4 separate regions of the Homo sapiens genome follow, and all the other regions are linked to region 4. The links come from fine-mapping of genetic effects on gene expression. A gene starts in region 4. Each other region holds a variant in brackets. All regions are shown on one strand. Distances are between the middles of the regions. Region 1 overlaps WNK2 (WNK lysine deficient protein kinase 2). Region 2 overlaps SUSD3 (sushi domain containing 3). Region 3 has its middle 20 kb from the start of NINJ1. Region 4 holds the start of NINJ1 (ninjurin 1).

Region 1 (5,143 bases), 100 kb before region 4:
CTACTTCTGTCAAAGCCACCATCACCCCGGCCACAACACACTGCACACCTCCACCTCAGCTGCAGAATTTGATACTGGGGTTAACACCTCAAATGCAGCAGTCAGTCTCTGGAAAGGTGTTGATCAGAGCTTCACCGAGCCTCCCAAGTAGGGCCACGAGGGCCCCTGTTCCAGGAGGCTAGTAGAGGCAGCGCCATGATGCGGTGGATGGGATGCCTCCTACAGAGCCGGGCCTTTCTAACCACACCTGGGCTTCCTCCCCACACCTCCTCCTTGAGGGTGCAGGAGCACTATTTGTGGTCACTGCTGCTGGCCAAGGGCCAGGCCATGCGGCTTTGTTGCGGGGGGGTGCGGGTGGCAGCCTGAGGGACAGTGGCTCCTCACCCAGCTGATGGCTGTGCATGAAGGGAGCAGAGGGCAAGCCCTGCAACCGGACTCAGAAGCAGCAGGGCGGGGCCAGGTGCTGCTTGCAATCTGCTAGGTTGTTTTGTGTTGGAAGTGGAGTAAGACGGTGTATGAGCAACTAATTTTAAAAAATTTTAAACACAATGAGGGTACCAACTATCACGTTCTTTCTCCTTCAACACGATTTAGCCTTCAAAAGCTTCACCTGACTCTTAATATAGAGAACATAAAGCATAAATTTTCCCAAGGTCAGGGAGGAGGGTGGGGGCACGCCCACCTGCCCTGGGTGCTGGAGCCCCCAGCCTGGGGCAGACACAGGAGTGAAGAACCTAAGGGCTCTGCCCAGTAGTGTACACCCCCAGGGTCGAGGAGCACCACCAGCCCCTGGGACAGCTTCAGGACAGACCACCATCCACCCTCCACAGTGAACCCAGGGGCCCTCCCATCCCACACCAGCACCCCAAGGCCTGGCAAATGGAGCTCTTAATCTCTGGAGCGCCCCACTTCCTCCTGCTGCAGACCATCCCTGCCTCCCTGGAGGGCCGCTGCACACAGCCAGCAGGTCCTGACACTCCTTCCAGTACCCACGGAAAACTGTGCACCTGTCTGTGAAGTTTCTGACCCAGGCCCACAGGTGAGTCAAGGACTCTGTCTGCCCTCCCACTTCCTCAGGGGCACACAGGAGGGGCTCAGAACAACCAAGTGACCGATGATTTACAACAACCAAGGGACAGAAATGCAGGTAATCTGCAAGGAGGGCTCGGGATGGAGGGATGGGTCAGAGTGAGGCTGTGCAGCTGCTGAGGACCACAGCCCCTGGTGCACCTGCAGAAGCAGCCATGGCCCCGCAGAGCAGCACTGAGGGGCAGCGCGGCCCCACCCAGTCAGGTGGCATGTGGAGACAGCAGGGACTGCAGGGATCAGGGCAGCCTGGGCCCTCAGTGCAGACGCCGCATGTCAGGGACAGCTCTGCAGGCCCCTGGGCTTCACAACAAGACGGGTGGTGCAGAAAACAGGCACAGAAAGCCTTGGCCTGGCCATTCCATTTCCAGATGTTCTGTTTGCATTCCCTCCACCCAGTGGGGCCACCACAGAGGGAGGACAAGACAGATCTGTTTATGCAGCTGAAGCCGTCCGATTAAAGAAAAAAATCACAGCGACAGCAAAACAGGGATTAACGTTCCCAGCTGCCTGGCGCTGACGACTGCCTAGAGACACACTTGGTGTAGGAGTGACTGGTTTAGCTGAAAAAGAAATCAAACCATTGTTTCAAAATGAAGAAGATAGGAAAGCAGGCAGCCATGGGCGGCCCAGAGTGTGAGCACTGGGGATGGGTGGCCTAGGCACGCCTCCAGGCAGGGGGCTATGGTGAAGCTCCAGCCTCTCTGAGCCTCAGTCTCCCCACCATCCCTGCTGTGAGAGCGACAGCCTCCATGGGTAAGCACTGCCCACAGCACCCCATGCACCACCATCCCTTCAGGTAGGAGACCTTGAGTAACCACCCCGCTACTAAGCCTCAGTTTCCCCCTCTGTAAAATGGCCAATCTCCTCAGTTTCCCCCTCTGCAAAATGGCCAAGCTCCTTACACAGCTGCCAGGATGGCTTTACAGAGCCACATGGAGCCCAGCCCAGGGTACGGCCCAAGGCCTCTGTGTCCTTATTAATTAACCAAGGGGCCAGGTGGACTCACACAGGTGACCTTGCGGTAGATCTGGGCCGCATTCTGGCACTCCGAGTAGGGGTACTCCGAGGTGGCCATCTCCAGCATGCACATCCCAAAGGCATAGACGTCCACGGACTCATCGTAGTGCTCCTCGTACATCTCGGGCGCCATGAACTCGGGAGTACCTGTGCCCGGAAGCAACAGACGCAGCTGTCAGCTGGCCACGGGCCCAGGAAGAGCTGGAGCCAGTGTCCCGGGAGCTTTGGCTGCCCAGAACCCCATGTCCCCTCCACATCCCATGGCACACTCAGAACACCTGGACCCCAGGGCCAGCCCTGCCCCTCACTTGGGACACAGGTGTGCTTTACAGACAGGGTTCCAAAAGTTCCACCTGGAACCACAGGAGTCCAGGGTTAGAAATCAGGTGACAGAGCCATCCCCTGCTCATAAGCTGGGAGACTATGACTTCCCAGGGGACGGGGTCCGAGCCTGGAAGGAGGCAAAACCCTGAGTACGCCCTCGCCTGTGGACACTATGATCCTGCCACAGGCTCGGCCGCAGCCACGTTCAGAAACCCTGGAGCAGAAAGAACTTGGGTTGCTACGGAGCTACCTAAAGCCACAAAACCCCTAAATGTCCCAAAGTGGGGAAAGGCTGGGTACACTCAGCCCACCCCTACAAGTGTCACGCAGCATGTACAA[C/T]AGTCAGCATCACTGAAGACAGTGTCCCTGAATGAGGGTGGGGTAGAAAATGGTACCCACCTGACAGAACCACAGAGTTGCTAAGATGGGAACTGTATGTGGCTCCTAAACACAAGAGATGCAAAAACAGTGTCTTCACTGAATTTTTAAGGACATGGCAAAGTTATGATAGGCTGAGCAAAATGAGCATGAGGCTAGACGTGCTGGCTGGCCTCACCTATGCAAAACCAAACCCCCAGGGCAAGATGATGTCTGCAGGGGGCGAGGGCTGATTTTTATTTTACTTATATTGGTCTGGGGTTTCTCTATTCTCTATAATAAGCTTTAGCTTTCATAATACAGCAACTGTAAAGGCCTTTTTAATAAAATAAGTCCGGTTGCATGTCTGTCGCGCTGAATGCAAAGAAAGGGACTAGAGACTTCAGTACAGCTGCTTTTAACGTCTGGATGTTTGTTGACTTTGGAAGGTCTTCAAAATTTCTAGTTTCTTTTTAAAAGCTCAAGCTAACTAATTAGTGCATTTTAAAAGCACGTTTTGTTTACCCGTCATTTCAATTTAAAATGTGTTACTTTTTTTTTTTTTTTTTTTTGAGACGGAATCTCACTCTGTCCCCCAGGCTGGAGTGCAATGGTGCAATCTTGGCTCACTGCAACCTCCATCTCCCACCCAGGTTCAAGCAATTCTCCTGCTTCAGCCTCCCAAGTAGCTGGGACTACAGGCGTCTGCCGCCATGCCTGGCTAATTTATTTGTATTTTTGGTAGAGACAGGATTTCACCATGTTGGTCAGGCTGTTCTCGAACTTCTGACCTCAAATGATCCGCCCGCCTCAGCCTCCCAAAGTACTGGGATTAGAGGTGTGAGTCACTGTGCCTGGCCACTCTTTTTTAAAGTTAACATTTTGGATAAAAATTGGGACAAGAATATGGTTTAGATTTCAGTCTTAGGCACACAGAACTCTGGAAGAACCCATGAGAAACAACAGGAGCTGAGTGGAGGGGCCTGACGCCGGGAACTTTTATTCTTTTGGGTTTTTTAACCACATGATTATACTGAAAATTTGCTGCACTAGCAATTTTTTTTTTTTTTTTTTTTGAGACTGGATCGTGCCCTGTCGCCCAGGCTCGAGTGCAGTGGCATGAACACAGCTCACTGCAACCTCGACCTCCCAGTCTCAAGCAATCCTCCCACCTCAGCCTCCCAAGTAGCTGGGACTACAGGTGTTCACCATGCCGGGCCAATTTCTTTTTCTTTCTCTTTCTTTTCTTTCTTTCTTTATTTCTCTCTCTTTCCTTCCTTCCCCCGCCTTTTTTTTTTTTTTTTTTTTTGTAGAGACAGGGATCTCACTACATTGCCTAGACTAGCCTCGAACCCCTGAGCTTAAGCAATTCTCCTGCTTCAGCCTCATTCTCTAGGAGACTGAGCAGCTGAGGACACTCCTGGTTGTGGCCTCTCTAACCAAAGCTTCCTGGACTCCAGCTGAGCAAAAGCTGGGTTGACGAGGGACAGCCCACAGAGCTGGGCAACCATGCGGGTCACAAGGTCTCCCCACTGTGCCTGCTGGAAACACCTGGCCTTCATCTCAACCTGATCCAGCAACTCGAAACTTCGTTTCCAAGAGGGCAAAGAGCCGCCCAGCCAGAGGAAGACGAGGGGCTCTGCCGGGGCTGCCGCTTCACAGTGGGCTGTGCTTCTTCCTCCAGGAGTGTTCACTCCTGAGTAGGAGATCACAAGCCTCCCTCCTGCCACCTGACTGCGCCCGGGGTTTGAGACCTGGGTTCCTACCACTTCTGAAGCCAAATTTGCAAAATCTGCCCAGAAAGTGCACAGAGCTCAAAGCCCTGGGCATGGGCTCTCCACGGTCCTGGGCCCCTGCTCTCAGCCCCTCCAGGAGGGAGTGGAGACCCTCACCTATATACCCATTTCACAGATGGGGAAACTGAACCCTGGGTCAGCCCCTACGCTCCACCACTCAGCTCCCCCAGAATGCCAGAGGCTTTGTGTACACAGGGCCACCCCCGGGCAGCCACCTTGCCCCAGATGTCACATTCTGAACAGACTTCCCAAACCAAAGCAGCTCTGGAGTCTCATTTTCCCCACACCTGCCAAGTTCTGTCCCCAAACATGCAGCAGAACTAAGAATTCACAAAGCCCCAAGATCGACTGCTCACTGTCCTGCCCTCACATTGGGGGCATGCTGGGTCTTCATTAACATGGGGGAGCCTCTCCCAATCTGATCCGATTGGGTGCCATCTGGGCTTCCTGAGCCCCGACCCACGCTGCTTGCCCTGCACATGTTGCAGCTTTCCCATCATCCTGGCCCCAGAAACAGCTGCTCCACAGCCACCCAGGCATTCTTTTCAAAGTCCGTGGAG
Region 2 (5,143 bases), 53 kb after region 4:
GAGTGTGCAGAAACCACCAGGAACCCAGCTGTCTGGCCAGGGCCTGGGATGTCCCAGGCAGAGAAGGGATGCTGGGGAGCAGGAGGTCAAGGGGAGGACATCTTCCCTCCTGCCAGGCCTGCCTCTTTGGTAGCCAGGAGCTGGATCACCCACCTGCTCCACCCTCAGTACTCTTGTGGCTCTCTACTCCCCCAGATACAAACCAAGCCATTCCCCAGGCTGACCAGACCCTGGCCCTGTCCCATCTCCAGCCTCCACACACACACTGGCCTCTGCTCCATGTGGGCTGCCTGGCGGCTCCCACCTCCAGCCCTTTGCATGTCCTCTCCTCCCCTCAGAGGCTGTCTCTCTCCCCTCCCAAAGCAGGCTCTCTTAGTCCTTTCACTTCCGGCATCACCTCTTCCAGGAAGCCTTCCTGGATCACGGCTCCCACCCACAACTAATTCTCAGAAAAACTCTAGTAAGTAGTAGGAATTAAGAAATGATCTGCTTATGCAATGAGTAAGTGAAAGCATCAATAACTGGTGGAGACGAAAGGCAGCTTCGGGGAGGCAGGAGCCAGACTGACTCCACCCAGCCTCACTTACTGGTTGTGTGGGAGTCTACACAAGTTTCTTAACCTGCCTAGTTCTTCACCTGGAAAACGGGATAAAAGTAGTACCCACCCCTAGGTGAAAAGAGTTAATATTTGGAAGAGTTCAGAACAGTGCCTGGCACATTGCAAGTGCTGAGAAGTACTTATGAAATAAAAACAAGGTCAAGAGGCAAACCTCACCTTGCTAAAGGCAATTTACCACCTATGGAGGCAGCCTGGGCCCTGCCTGAGGGGTGGGCAGCCCCAGCACAGGCATATCCCGAGGATCCTGCCTGGGAGCCCGGGGCCCAGGGCTGGGGACTCAGGGAACTCTGCCTCCATCGGCTTTGTAGCCCTGGGCAGGACCCGCCTTCTCTGAGTCCCCATGAAGCTGGGCTGAGTGCTCGAGGTCTCCATGTGTGAGAGAGCTCCGGGAAGGGGCTCTGCCCTAAGGGTCCCCCTCCCAATCCCCCTCAGCCTCACCACCACTTCCTGCCTCTTGAGCTGACTGTCAGAGTGGCCCCTAAGCCGGCCTCCTCCAGCCTCTCACGGCCCTGTCAGGGTGCCTCCCTCCCGCCCTGGCTCTCTCACTCCCCAGAGGGGGTGAACACAGCCCTGTACACAGATCTGTGGCCACTCTTGGACGGGACGCACACGTCCGACCACACACTGCACAAGTTCCCGCAGTGTAAGAGGCAGGGTCTGTGGCGCTGGGACCAGGCAGAAGTGTGGCCCCAAACAGCACCCCTGGGAGCCCCTCGGCATCATGCTCTGGCCAGCAAAGCCCCTGCGGCAGCGGCAGCAGCTGTGGCTGCCATCATCCTGGACACCATGTTGCCTTGAGAGGCAATTGTTCCTTCCCCCATTCCATGGGCACTTTCCCAGTTATGACACAGGATGATCTGGTCCCAGTGCTGTAATGGGGAGTGGGGATCACAGGTGGGGCAATGGAGGAGCTCTGAAAGTGGCTTTGGATATCTCACTACCCAAAAGGAAAGGCATTAGCCACCATGGCCCCAACAAAACTAAAATAAAAAGGAAAGGGGGTCAGGCACGGTGGCTCACGCCTGTAATCCCAGCACTTTGGGAGGCCGAGGTGGGCAGATCACGAGGTGAGGAGATCGAGACCATCCTGGCTAACACAGTGAAACCCTGTCTCTACTAAAAATACAAAAAATTAGCTGGGCATGGTGGCGGACACCTGTGGTCCCAGCTACTTGGGAGGCTGAGGCAGGAGAATGGTGTGAACCCGGGAGGCGGAGCTTGCAGTGAGCCGAGATCGCGCCACTGAACTCCAGCCTGGACGACAGAGCAAGACTCCGCCTCAAAAAAAAAAAAAAAAAAAAAAAAAGGAAAGAGGCCTAAAAAATGTACAGCCAATTGATGGGTCAGGTGCCCTCCCACAACACATGGAGCAAAACATTTGGAGGTAATTCAGCAGAGAAAACAGAAAATGACTCATGCCAGCAATGGCACTGGTGAGCCAAGGCTGGAGAAAACATTCTTCCTCGACATTCATCAAAGAAATGCTGACGGAAACTACCCACACAACTTGTAGCTACTGTAAGAAACAAATGATAAACAAATGGTCAGCACTCAGTGATGATGCAGTTACCAGAAAAATATGGCCACATTCACTTGTACCAGAGCTCCCAGGGAAAGAATGTGGTCATAAAATATTCAGACTGTTGGGCCTAAACAATCGATTCCTAGGATCAGCCCCAAGAGTTGTGGTCTTGAAAAAGAAAAACAGCACTAAGCAAAAAGACACTGACCACGCCTGACCACTCAACAGGGGAGGGTCTAGCAGATATTGGAAGCTTTGGAATAATGGGCTGCTGTAAGGAATGATAGCCTGGAGGCCTCAGACCACCATGGTGACCTGGAACGTGTTGCTAAGTGCAGAAGTATCAATGGCAGCATTTCGGCTACATCCTTGTTGATGTAATACACACTTGAAGCGTCAGGAAAGGAGACAGAAAGGTGAATTCCTTCCCTGCAGGTGTTGGCCAGACCCAGCACGGTGTGTGTAACCCAGGGCCACAGAGACCACCATCTCCTGTGCCTCAGTTTCCCCATCTGCATAAGGTCGTAAGAGTGGCAACGACAGTAACAGCCAGTATTCAATGAGCTCTCACCCTGGGCCTGGCGAGAGAGGCACACACCCGGACTCAGGTAACCTCAACAACTTGAAAGGGTGAGCGCTACTGCAATCCTCACTTTACAGGTGAGGAAACCGAGGCATGGAGCTGTTAGTCATACAGTGAGGCCATGAGGGCTGGGACCAAGTGCACTGCAGCCTCGAAAGACTCCAGCAGGAGGGCCTGAAGGAAGGGAACACAAGCTCAATGATGTCGTCTGGATGCCCGCCCAGACCCCGGTGTCTAAGCGCTGTTCTCCACCCACAGAAACAGGGCTCCCAGAGCAGTGGCCAACCGCAGAGATGGGCACAGAAAGCATGAGATGGGCCTGGAACATCTTGTGCAAGGCAG[G/T]AAGCACTCACAGACTGATGGGGATGGATCAGAAGGACACAGGCCATGGCTTGGCAGAGCTCCTACTGCCAAGAACTGGAGCCCACAAAAAGTGTGCTTGAAAATAATGTGGGGGAAGGGGCATGAATGAGGTTGCCTGGCTTAGCTGGTGACCATGAGAATGGGAGGCAGGGACAGGAGATCTGTGACAATATTCTACTTTTGTGTATTTGTGAACTTTTCCCAAAATAAAAGTTTCAGAAAAGAATATTCATGAGTTCATGTGATGCTAAAACAACAAAACAAAATCAAAAGAAAGGAAAGAAAAAAACAGCTCATCCTCATCCCTGATAGAAGGAATGTCAGAAGTGCAACAGAATTAACAAAGTCACCATTCTGTAATGCCCAAGGCAAGAGCGGATCTGGCAGGATCAGCCTTGCACGCTGAGACCACAAGTCAGAGGCCGCTGAGACAGTGGAGGGACACTTGCAGAGCCCCTTCCTCAGGCTCTGACAGTGGAGGGACCTGGGGGGCTTCGCCTCAGCCAAGAGACCCCATTCCATGTGGCCCGTGGGGGCAGCCTGGCCCATGTCTGTGATCTGCACATGTAGCCCTGCACCAGAAATGCAGAGCCGGGCCTGGTCACACAGAAACACCAGACAGACGCAGACAGGAGCCTCTGCATGCGACCACTGGCCTGGAACCCTCAGAAGACTATGCCATGAAAAACTGAAGGCCCATACCAGTTTAAGGAGCCCAGAGACCTGGTGGCTGAGTGCTGCGTGTGATTATGGACATTCTCCACTCAACAGGCCACGTGCAATCAATATTAGATTTCTGTTAGTTTTGTTTTTTTTTTTTTTTTTTTTTTGAGACGGAGTCTCGCTCTGTCGCCCAGGCTGGAGTGCGGTGGCACAACCTTGGCTCACTACAAGCTCCGCCTCCTGGGTTCAAGTGATTCTCCTGTCTCTGCCTCCCAAGTAGCTGGGATTAAAGGCACACTCCGCCACACCCAGGTAATGTTTGTGTTTTTAGTAGAGACGGGATTTCACCATGTTGGCCTCGAACTCCTGACCTCAGGTGATCCTCCCACCTCAGCCTCCCAAACTGCTGGGATTACAGGTGTGAGCCACCAAGCCTGGCCAATCAGTATTAAATTTCTGGACTCAGAAAAAGAATGTCCTTATATTGGTTCAGGGCAAAAAAATGTATGTGTGTATTAAGAGAGAGAGAAAGGAGAGGGACAGAGCACGGGAGGGAGAGCAAGTGACTGCAGCTCAGTGCAGAGCCCTGCTGGGTGTAGGTGGAGGGAACACAGGTGTGTAGAAGCTTCAGCTTCCCTGGAGGGTGGACCCTCCAGATGAAAACACTGCTGGGGGCAGTTCTGAGTCCTAGAATGTCAGAGTCAGGACAGAGTGCTACAAGGACCACCAGCCTCTTGTTTTAGAGATGGGAGTTAAGGTTCTGGGTGGGCTAGGCGTGTGGGAGCAGCAGGCTCTCAGCGTGTGGGAGCAGCAGGTGGCCCGGGGCCTGACCAAGCTGGACCCCTTGTCCCCCAGCATGTCCCCTACCCAGACCCGGGCTCACGTGGTGAAGCTGTGGTTGTCGTGCGCCTGGCTGGGCCCGCTCACGGGTTTGTTGAAGTGCTTGAGGCCAAGGTATGCGGCCTGCACCGTCTCCAAGTCCTCATCTTTCAGCTGGGACCACAGCTGGGCTGACCTGGAGGAGAGTTTGGGAGGAAGGACTCTGAGCATGCAGGTGTATCCCTGACGGTGGTGGAAACAGGCTCCATGTAGGCCCAGGGCACCGTCTGCAGGACCAGTGCAGGCTGGCAAACCTCTCAAAGAGCTGGGCAGTGGATGTTTTTGGTGTGGTGAGACACATGATTTCTCCCACAGCTAAACTCTGCAATTGCAGCCCAAAAGTAGCCACACACCAGTAGACAATGAACATGGCTGTGTTCCAATAAAACTTTACTTACAAATACAGGTGGTGGAAAGTTCTAGGGCTGGACAGTGCTAATGGCTGCACTACATCGTGAACATACTTAATGCTACTGAACTGTAGACGTTAAAAAGGTTAAGTTTTGGCCAGGCG
Region 3 (5,143 bases), 20 kb before region 4:
TCATTCTCTTTTTCTTCCTTAGGCATAGAAACCCTGAACTTTAGTTGAGAACATGGTTGCCTGGAGTAGAAACTACATCTCCCAGCTTCCGTTGTAGCTAGGTATGGCCACTTGGTGAAGTTCTGGCCACGACACATGAGTGAAAGTGTCCAGAAAGCTCTGAGAAGTGTCTTGGAGGGTCAGAGCGCACCTTTCTTCCTCCCTTCCTCCTTCCTGCTGGCTGGGATGCAAGCTTGATGACTGGAACTCAAGCAGCTATCTTAGGTCATGAGGTGGAGGCTACACGTGGAGAAAGCCAGGGCAGGAAGCTGGGAGGAAATGGGTGTCTGAGAATGTGGAGCTGCCACCGCAGCCATGTACAGCATGCCTCCAGACATCATTTGTGTAGTAAAGAAATGACTGTCTTGTTTAAGCAACTGGTACTTTGCCGTTTGTGTCACTCATAGCGACACTTAGCCCTGAGTGACAAAGCATATAGAGCCCCTGGCGCAGGGCCTGGCTCACGGCAGGTGCTCCAGCTGAGCATCCCCCAGTAACCCCGTACCTGCAGCAGGGAGAAGGGAACCCAGGCCTGAAGCCTAGGGACTCCCGTGAGCCTAGGAGAGAAGCTGACCCAGAGGAGGACATAAACTCCCACCAGCCCCGGCCTGCCCAGCTGTTGGTTGTAGGTCATTGGCCTTCGAAGGCCACACCACCCACGGTTTCTAGCACTTACTGTCCCACTGGCAGAGGGCATTGCCCTAAGAAGATGACATGTGTCCAGCCACATGCTTCCCTGACTGCAGATTCTACCAATTGAATTAGATTTTCCTCTGGTTGATGTTAGTGTGAGTCTTCATTTCCTGACCATCTGCTGTTTGGGTGTCAGGAAAGCCCTCTGGGTGCCAAAGGGATGGCAGCCCAGAATGGAAAAGGCTCCACAGATGCCAGTGAACAAAGAGGCTGAAGTGACGTTCTGCGGAGGCCCCACACTGGGCTGCCCCCTCTGCGCAGGCAGCGGTCCCACACACGGGGTTGGGCGCTCAGCCGCTTCCGAGCCCAGTGCCTGAGCCTTAACTTAGTCAAGAGCCCTTCTCACACTGAACACTTGTGAAAATAGGTTTATAGTCAACTAAGAGGGGAGGGGCGTGTGAGAGAAAGTGTGGAGGGGAGGCAGGGAGGCGGATAGCACAGTACCAATGCCTCTTGGGTCCCAGCATGACCAGCGCAGAAAAAGCACAGCCTCAGGCCACGCTGCACTTGTTTGCTTGTCTTCTAAATCCTAAACACCATGTGCTGGCTTTGGATGGCTCCATTGACACCCTTCCCCCATCACCTCCCGGAGCCTCACTGCCCCGTGTTAGCACTGAGCAGGCACTGGGAAGTCATCTCCTTATTGCTACCTGCCGCATTCACTGACACATTTTCTTCTATCTGCACACCCAGGTTCACAGCAGCATTATCCACAGAGCCAGGATACGGAAGCAACACAAGTGTCCAGCAACAGATGAGCAGATAAACAAAATGTGGTGTCTCCATATGATGGAATGTTATTCAGTCTCAACAAGAAGGACATTCTGGCACATGCTACACACGGATGAACCTTGAGGCCACTATGCTAAATGAAATAACTTGATCACAAAAGGACACATACTGCATGATTCCACGTATATGTGATACCCAGAGGAGTTGCATTCATAGAAACAGAGAGTCGGATGGCGGCTGCTAGGGCCTGGGGGAGGGAGGAATGGGGAGTCAGCATTGAATGGGGACAGAGTTTCAGTTTGGGATAATGAAAAAGCTCTAGAGGTCTGTTTCATAAATCTGGATATATTTACACTACTGAACTATACACTTAACATGGTTAAGGCCAGGCGCGGTGGCTCATGCCTGTAATCCTAGCACTTTGGGAGGCCAAGGCGGGTGGATCACCTGGGGTCAGGAGTTCAAGGCCAGCCTGGCCAACATAGCGAAACCCCATCTCTACTAAAAATACAAAAATTATCTCGGCGTGGTGGCACGTGCCTGTAGACCCAGCTACTCAGGAGGAGTAGCTACTCAGACAGGAGAATCGCTTTAACCCGGGAGGCAGAGGTTGCAGCGAGCCAAGATCACATCATTGCACTCCAGCCTGGGCGACAGAGCGAGACTCTGTCTCAAAAAAAAAAAAAAAAACATAGTTAAGATGGCAAAAGAAAAATCATGTCACATTGATCACAGAC[C/A]TAAAGCTTCCAGAGGAAGACATAGAGGAGTATCTCTGTGGCTGTGTCATCAGGGATAGGAAACACACTGAGAAGATGTAAGAAAACTCAGGTGCTCGAGGGCCGAGCGAGGCACCAGGAAGGCCCATGTGGAAGGAGTGAGGCCTCCACAGAGAAGGTGTATTTGAGGCCCTCTAGATGTGCTTTTGTCTGCTGCTAAGTCCACGGGTTTGCCTGGCCCGGGCTAGTCTGCAGCCGCTGCTGGTGGGGTGCAGGCACTGTGGAACTGGGGCCCCGCCGGCCAGGTATGCAGCGAGTCTGGGTGTAGGCAGGCCTGGAGCATGTGGAATTCCAGATCAAGAGGGGATGGAAAGGTAGTCACCAGCCAGGGTCGAAAGGGGACGCGCATTTGGAGTACATGGCCAGCACCCCACACCATGGACCTGCCCTGCAGCTGTGGGAGTCCACAGAAGAGCCCCTTCCTCCTCCTACAGTGCCCCCAGCGCCCTCTATTGCCAAAAGGCTGGCACTGCACTCACTGGGAGGGAGAAATGTTATCCCAGAGCAGGAACTGAAGGGTGACTTGGAGCTCAGAGGTAGTGAACTGATGCAGTGACCCTAGGGGAAAAAAGAGACCTCTTGGACAGGATGCCAAAAGAAATAACCGTAAAATTTGGCCAGGTGGGCTTCAAAAATTTAAACCTTCTGCTTATCAAAAGACACTATTAAGAAAATAATAGACAAGACATAGAACTGGAAAAAATATTTACAACTATATCTGAAAAAGAACATGTATCCAGGCCCAGCACGGTGGCTCATGCCTGTAATCCCAGCACTTTGGGAGGCTGAGGGGGGTGGATCACCTGAAGTCAGGAGTTCGAGACCAGCCTGGCCAACATGGTGAAACCCGTGTCTACTAAAAATACAAAAATTAGCCGGGCGTGGTGGTGCACATCTGTAGTCCCAGCTACTCAGGAGGCTGAGGCAGGAGAATCGCTTGAACCCAGGAGACAGAGGTTACAGTGAGCCGAGATCGGATCACCGCACTCCAGCCTGGGTGACAGAGTGAGACTCCATCTCAAAAAAAAAAAAAAACCACATATCCATAATATATAAAGAACTCCTTTTAAAAGTCAATGCTAAAAAATGAATAACCTGGATTTTATTATTATTTTTTAGAGATGCAATCTTTCTCTGTTGCCCAGGCTAGAGTGCAGAGGTACAATCACAGCTCACGGCATGCAGCCTTGACCTCCTGGGCTCAAGGAATCCTCCCATCTCAGCCTCCTGAGTACCTGGGACTACAGACATGCATCACCATGCCCAGCTAATTAAAACAAAAATTTTTTTAGATGGACCTGAATTTTAAAATGAGCCAAAGACCTGAACAGACCCTTCACAAAAGAAAATATATGAAGAGCTGGCTGGGCGCAGTGAATCATGCCTGTAATCCCAGCACTTTGGGAGGCTGAGGCAGGCGGATCACGAGGTCAGGAGATCGAGACCATCCTGGCTAACATGGTGAAACCCCGTCTCTACTAAAAATACAAAAAGTTAGCCGGGCGTGGTGGCAGGCGCCTGTAGTCCCAGCTACTCAGGAGGCTGAGGCAGGAGAATGGTGTGAACCTGGGGAGGCGGAGCTTGCAGTGAGCCGAGATTGCACCACTGCACTCCAACCTGGGCAACAGAGCGAGACTCCATTTCAAAAAAAAGAAAAGAAAATATATGAAGAGCTAATGAACACGAATTTGTGTGCAATACCATTAGTCACCAGGGAACGGATAACTAAAACCTCAGTGAGTTACTACTTCAAACACATTATAATGGCTAAAATCTCAAAACCCGGAAAATATCAAGTGTTAGGACACGGAGCAAATGGAACACACAGCCACTCTGGAAAATGGTCTGTCAGTTTCTTATAAAACTAAACATACATTTACTATATAATGTGGAAATTTAATTCTGTTTACTCAGGAGAAGTACTTGTTTGAGTAAACAAGTACTTACACACCAGTGTCTTAAGGAATAGATTTATTTGTAACAACTAAAGCTGAACAACCCAAACGTCTATTCCCCAGGTACATGGATAAACACACTGGGGTGCATCCCAACAGTGGCGTGCTGGTTAGCAGGGAGAAGGACTTCAGAATTGCTGATCCAGGTAGCAATATGGATGAGCCTCAAAAACATTTTGTGGTGGGGCAAGGTGGCTCATGCCTGTAATCCCAGCACTCTGGGTAGGACTTCAGGTAGCACTGCTACCTGCAGTCAGGAGTTCGAGACCAGCCTGGCCAACATGGTGAAACTACTAAAAATACAGTCTTTACTAAAAATACAAAAATTAGCTAGGCGTCATGGTGGGCGCCTGTAATCCCAGCTACTCAGGAGGCTGAGGCAGGAGAATCGCTTGAACCTGGGATGCAGAGGTTGCGGTGAGCTGAGATCGTGCTATTGCACTCCAGCCTGGGCAACAAGAGCAAAACTCCATCTCAAAAAGAAAAAAAAGAATGAAAGAATGGATACTGGATATATCCATTCTCTGCCCCAGGGGACAGCATATTCAGTCCAGGTGACAGGTCAAGATGTGGCCAATTCAGTTCCGTATTTCCCAGCCTTCCTCAAAGATAAGGGTGGCCCTGAAACTTAAGGTGCAGTCTACCGGGGAAATTTAGGGCCTTTGCTTTTAAGAGAAAAGGGGGCCCATGTGGCTTGTGATCTCCTCCCTGTTTCTCCCTGGACTTCACACAGACATGCTGTCTGGACCTCAAGCAGCCCTATTGTGACCAGGAGGCAGCAACCCTGAGGAGAAGGCCAACAGCATCCCAGAGATGAGGCCCAACTCTGGCAGCGTGCCCAAGGATGAATTCTCTGGCCACCATCTCCCAAGGTCAGGCTGGACACCAGAGGGAGGACACACATTTGGTGATAAGTTGTGATGCTGCCTTTAAAACATTCACTCTCAC
Region 4 (5,143 bases):
TCTGAAGGCTTTCTGTAGGTGAAAACATGGTCCATCTGACCCATGGACCTTTCAACAGCTTGGTGCTTTCACCGCATGTTCCCCCAGGTCTGAGAGACACAACTGTACTCCCCATAGTACGCGGTGGGGGTCGCTTAGACCGTGCTTAGTCCCAGCTCCTAGGACAGTGGGTGAGTAGAAGGTCCAAGCCTCCGGTGTGCCTGTTCTCTGCCCCACTGGGGTCTCATTCTTGGTCAGCGGGATGGAGCCACCTGCTTGAGGTGGCACTGTGAGGAGCACGCTGGGGTGACACCTCCATGGTCCTCACATGCCATCTTGCCTTATACCCACTTTACATATGAGGAAGCACATCCCAAGCCAGAAGGGGCAGATCTGAACTCAACACAACGCCAGCCCCAGAAGAATCCACTAGAGTCTTTGATGGGGGAGAGGGATGCACCAAGCCTCCCTGGGCACCAGAGAGGCATCCTGAGATACCCTGTGGGCTCCTCCACAGAGGCCTGGGGCCCTCGTACATATACAGTGTTTGTGTGTGCACACCCACCCACACATAGGGCTGCTCTGCTGGGGCATCTGCCAGCCCGTTCCTCCCAGCCACACCCCTCCTCTGTGTCTCTCCTGGGGACATGTCCCTCAGCTCAGGGTCAGCGTCTAGAAACTGGTCTTGGACAGCTCATGCACTCATGGTCTCCAGGAGAACTTGAAAGTAGGTGGTTGGGCCCGGTGCAGTGGCTCACGCCTGTAATCCTTTCACTTTGGGAGGCTGAGGTAGGCAGATCACAAGGTCAGGAGATCGAGACCATCCTGGCTAACATGGTGAAACCCCGTCTCTACTAAAAATACAAAAAATTAGCCAGGCGTGGTGGCGGGCGCCTGTAGTCCCAGCTACTCGAGAGCCTGAGGCAGGAGAATCGCTTGAACCTGGGAGGCGGAGCTTGCAGTGAGCCAAAATCGCGCCACTGCACTCCAGCCTGAGCAATAGAACGAGACTCCATCTCAAAAAAAAGAAAAAAAAAAGGTAGATGGAGGTGACACGGGGTACACTGTGCCTTTAAGACTTGTCCTGGGTTGGATCCAGCAGAGAACAGTTGGGTAAACAGCATTGAGCACAGTGGGGAAAACAGACACTACATACTCAAATGAGGATGACGGAGCAGACGAGGGAACTCCAGCGCTGCAGCCTGCCTGAGCCCTGACACCCACACGTCCTGCCAGCAGCCCCAGGAGCTGAGGAAACTGAGGCTGGGAGAGGGTCTCAGACGGCCAGCACAGAGCAGGTTTACAAACCCCGAGGCTGATGTCCCAACTGTCACTGGTGCTGCGACCCTCCCGGCTTCCTCTTAGAAGGTGGGAATGGGGCCAGGCGCAGTGGCTCATGCCTGTAATCCTAGCACTTTAGGAGGCTGAGGCGGGCAGATCACCTGAGGTCAGGAGGTGATCTGGCCAACATGGTGAAATTCTGTCTCTACCAAAAATACAAAAATTAGCCGGGCGTGGTGGCGCACACCTGTAGTCCCAGCTACTCAGGAGGCTGAGGCAGGAGAACGGTGTGAACCCGGGAGGTGGAGCTTGCAGTGAGCCAAGATCGCACCACTACACTCTAGCATGGGCGACAGAGCAAGACTCCATCTCAAAAAAAAAAAAAAAAAAGGATGGGAATGATGAACCACACTGCAGGAGCTCCCACATGGCACAAAGGAAAGAATACTCTCAGGACGGGGTCTCCACCTGCCAAGCCCTCCTACTTCGGGGCCTCTCTACACGCCCTTGGCCTTCCAAGGTCTCAGGGCTCCCCTGCAGCTCCCAGGGCCCTTTCTGGGTGTGACGTATTTTCTCTGTGGTCCCACACCTCCTGCCCCTCCAGGAATTGAGCCCTCGTGGGCAGGCACTATCCCCCAGAATAGGGATTTGTCCCATACTGTGAGAGAGTTTTTTGTGTGAATGGTGCTGGATTTCCAGCTGCTGGTGAACACTCAGGTGTGCCAACAGTGCCCTGATTATGCGAGGACAACAGCAACCATCCCCGTCGTGGGCCACCGTGCCAGACCCTGTCCTGCAGATCCCCTCTGAGGCAGAGCTGGGGCAGTGACAGCCTGAGCCTCAGTTTCTCTGCTGTGAAGTGGGCCCACGACAGCTCCTCCTTCATGGGATGACCCCGTTTGGAGGATCAGGGCAAGCGCAATCCTGCTGCCCTGCCCATGCCCACTCACTCCTACCTCCTGTCCCGGTGGCAGCCTGACTGGACAGAGCCTGGGGTCTGAGCTGGCCTTCCTTCCACTGCCCTTCTGGAAATAGAGTGGCCATACTGCCGCAAGCTGACTATGCTGTGGTCAGGATGAACTCCCCTGGCCTCCCAGGGTGGCCGCCACATGCTCTCGACCCCCAGGCCCCCAGATGGGCAAAGTGCTGAGGAATGAACATATGGAGAAACAGAGACCAAACAACCACTTCAATCATACAACAGGTGGGGGCCCGCCTAGCATCTGGCCAGGGCTCTGGGCACTGTGCTGCCCCCAGCCCACCCCCTGCCACAGGTGGCACAGATGGGCCCATGAGTCAGCGCACGTTCATCCCCTTTGTGCCTCCCCCAGCCCCTCCAGCAGTCTGTGCCCTCATAACCCCCATTTCCCAGGCAGGAAAACCTAAGGTCAGGGAGTGGGAAGCCCTGTGTCAGCGTGGCCCGCAATCAGGGGAACCCCGGACTCTCTGACGCTGTTACTAGGGGCGCAGCAGGCGCTGTGCTGGAGCGATCTGCGGTTCCCAGGGCGAACCCCGCCTGGGAAAAACCCAGCGTGGGCGCCAGCGGCAACGCCCGCTCGCTTTCATGCAGTTTGCCTGGTGGCCAGGGAAAGGTCGTTCTTGGCCTCATTTTGTGGATTAAAAGTGTCCGCGACGGAGGTTCAGAGCAAGACGCAGCGCAGGGTCCTCTGGGGCCATCGGCGTCGCGCCCCCTCCCTTGTGGGGCCCCGCGGGACCGTCTCAGGCCCGAGGGGTTGGGGTCGCCCCAAACTGCGCGCTCTCAGCGTACAGCCTCCAGGCCCCGGGCCCGCCCCGGGTGGAGGCGGAGTCTGGGGCAGCAGCTCGCCGCCGGGCGGGCCGGGGGCGGGCCGGGGGCGGGCGCGCAGCTGGAGCCTGCGGCTGAGGCTCGGGCGCGCTCAGGCCCGGATCCTGGCGGCCTGGGCGGCCGCACCATGGACTCGGGAACCGAGGAGTACGAGCTCAACGGCGGCCTGCCTCCGGGCACACCCGGCTCCCCGGACGCCTCGGTAAGACCTTCCCCCCACCGCTGCATGATCTTGCCAGGCCCTGTCCTTTCGGGGCGCCGCGGCTCCCCGGGCACCTGTGTGCGCCGCGTCCGCACTGCAGAGTGTTGGGGGACGTCCCGCTCTAGGCCAAGTCCTTCCCGCCCCATCAGGGTCAGAACGATGCCCCCGGGAGCTCCAGCCACCCCCGGCAAGTGGGCGGGACGAGGGGGCGTGGGGGCGCAGGGCGGGCTGGCGTCCCCAGCCCCACTAAGCAGCGCCCGCGCTTGGCTGCACGGCGGAGGGGGCCTCGGCGCAGCTCCTCGGGCTAAGGACTGCCGGCGCCCGGCTTTCCCGACCTCCCCCCCACTCTCGCGCGGGCCTCTCTAACTTCAGCCTCGCCGTGCCGGCTCCTCCGCGCACTTTGCCCGGAGGCGGGCGGAGGGGAGTCACAGCCTCCGGGCTCCAGACCAGCTGCATGCAGACAGTTACGTCACCCCACGCTGACCACACAATCTGATGCGTGCCTTGATGGGGGAACTTGGGGCCCGCTGTGGTCCCTATTCCACTCACCTGCCTTGAGAAATAGAAACGTCACACAGCCTTCAGTGTATGCCGCCACCGGCCCTCCAGAACTTGCCCTGCCCGGCCTGGGAGGGCTGTGGGCAGGGGGCAGGCCCTGGTAGTGGTCCCGCTTCAGAATTCTTCATCCCAGGACTCAGCACTTACTGAGCACCTTGTGTTTGTTGCAAGGTCCTGGCATGGCCCTCTGGTGACTTGTTTACTTTGAACATTCTTTCCTTTTCTAACCCCCTCAGGGATGGGGGCAGGGAACAGCAGCCTGTTGGGTTTTTCCAGGCCTCTCCATGGCGTGGACCAGACTGGGGCAAAGACACTCTGCCCACTCGCTGGTGAACAGTCCTAGGCCGGTGCTGTGGGGACAGGACATGTTCGGGGAGGCGGGGCCCCATGAGCCACGGGATAGGATGGCCCTGGGGCTGCATGGACACTTGTTCCTAGGTTAGAGAGGAGCTGTCGCACTGCAGGACTTGACCGGTGTGCGGGACCCCAGCGACCTGGCCCTGCCCCAGTGTGTGAGCACTTTGGAGCAATAGGCAGGGGGCTCCTCCGGCTGTGTGTCCTTGGGAAGTTGCCACACCTCGCTGGGCCTTTTAGACATGGTCTTATAAAGAGAGAACAAAGGGTCTCTCCTGCCTTCAGGGAAGTGGGGAAAGCAAGTCAGGTAATAAACAGGTCAGTGGCTTGGAAGCGCCTTGGAAAGGAAGGGATACTGCTCCTCCCCCAACCCTGACCTTGCCCGGGCAATGCCCTCCACTCAGAGCAGTCTCTGCTCACTTCTGCGGGCGGCAGGATAGGCTGTGCCTCCTGAGATGGGTGCATCTCAAGCCCAGAGGAGATTGGGTTGGATTTGTTCCCGGATCACTGTCTTGGCTCTGGGCACCAGAGGGAGAGAGACACAGCCCCGCCCCACCAAGCCGCGGTTGGAGAGCAGCCCAGCCCAGACAGGGCAGGAGAGGCCAGGGCAAAGCAGGGGGTTCCCTGGGGGCTGGGAGCCCATCGTGGGGGGCGGGGCATGGTGGTCAGGGAAGGCTTTCTGTGGAGGTGGGGACATTGGCTCTGAGCCCTGGAGGGCAGGGAAGGTGGGTGAGCAGATCTGGCTCTCTGAGATGTGTGGAAGGGCATCTAGGCAGAGGGAACAGTGGGAGCAAAGGCTCAGAGGCTGGACCACAGAGCACATGAGGGCCAGGTAGGAGGTGGGGGGATGGGAAGCCAGGCCGATGGGAGGGGCCTTGCAGGCCTGATCACGGTCTGGTGTCCAGGGAGCTGTGGAAAGGCTATGAGCCAGTGTGAGGATGAGCACATTTCCCCTTGAGGGGTAG

What was found. PIP is the estimated chance that this variant, and not a neighbour inherited with it, causes the effect.
Region 1: its variant is the best candidate, but not a certain one, in a credible set for the expression of NINJ1 in whole blood (INTERVAL, PIP 0.84).
Region 2: its variant is the best candidate, but not a certain one, in a credible set for the expression of NINJ1 in whole blood (INTERVAL, PIP 0.81).
Region 3: its variant is the best candidate, but not a certain one, in a credible set for the expression of NINJ1 in whole blood (INTERVAL, PIP 0.70).

The regions. Positions count from the first base shown.
Region 1 is chr9:93,231,918-93,237,060 of GRCh38, reverse strand. WNK2 (WNK lysine deficient protein kinase 2) reads right to left here. Exons shown (of 30, transcript NM_006648.4): 5 at 2,096-2,253. Among named protein-coding and RNA genes, the nearest start is that of WNK2, 50 kb to the right of the region's middle. The variant C/T (reference allele first, on the strand shown) is at 2,770.
Region 2 is chr9:93,079,093-93,084,235 of GRCh38, reverse strand. It overlaps SUSD3 (sushi domain containing 3), which reads right to left. Exons shown (of 5, transcript NM_145006.4): 4 at 4,634-4,765. Among named protein-coding and RNA genes, the nearest start is that of CARD19, 15 kb to the left of the region's middle. RefSeq lists an enhancer at 1,081-1,709. The variant G/T (reference allele first, on the strand shown) is at 3,067.
Region 3 is chr9:93,152,029-93,157,171 of GRCh38, reverse strand. No RefSeq gene overlaps it. Among named protein-coding and RNA genes, the nearest start is that of NINJ1, 20 kb to the right of the region's middle. RefSeq lists enhancers at 209-268, 309-358. The variant C/A (reference allele first, on the strand shown) is at 2,202.
Region 4 is chr9:93,132,266-93,137,408 of GRCh38, reverse strand. It overlaps NINJ1 (ninjurin 1), which reads left to right and starts at 3,158. Exons shown (of 4, transcript NM_004148.4): 1 at 3,158-3,266. The coding sequence starts at 3,192. It overlaps LOC124902212 (a long non-coding RNA gene), which reads right to left and starts at 4,397. Exons shown (of 3, transcript XR_007061665.1): 1 at 3,816-4,397. RefSeq lists enhancers at 1,848-2,444, 3,904-3,953 and silencers at 2,414-2,463, 2,964-3,193, 3,364-3,613.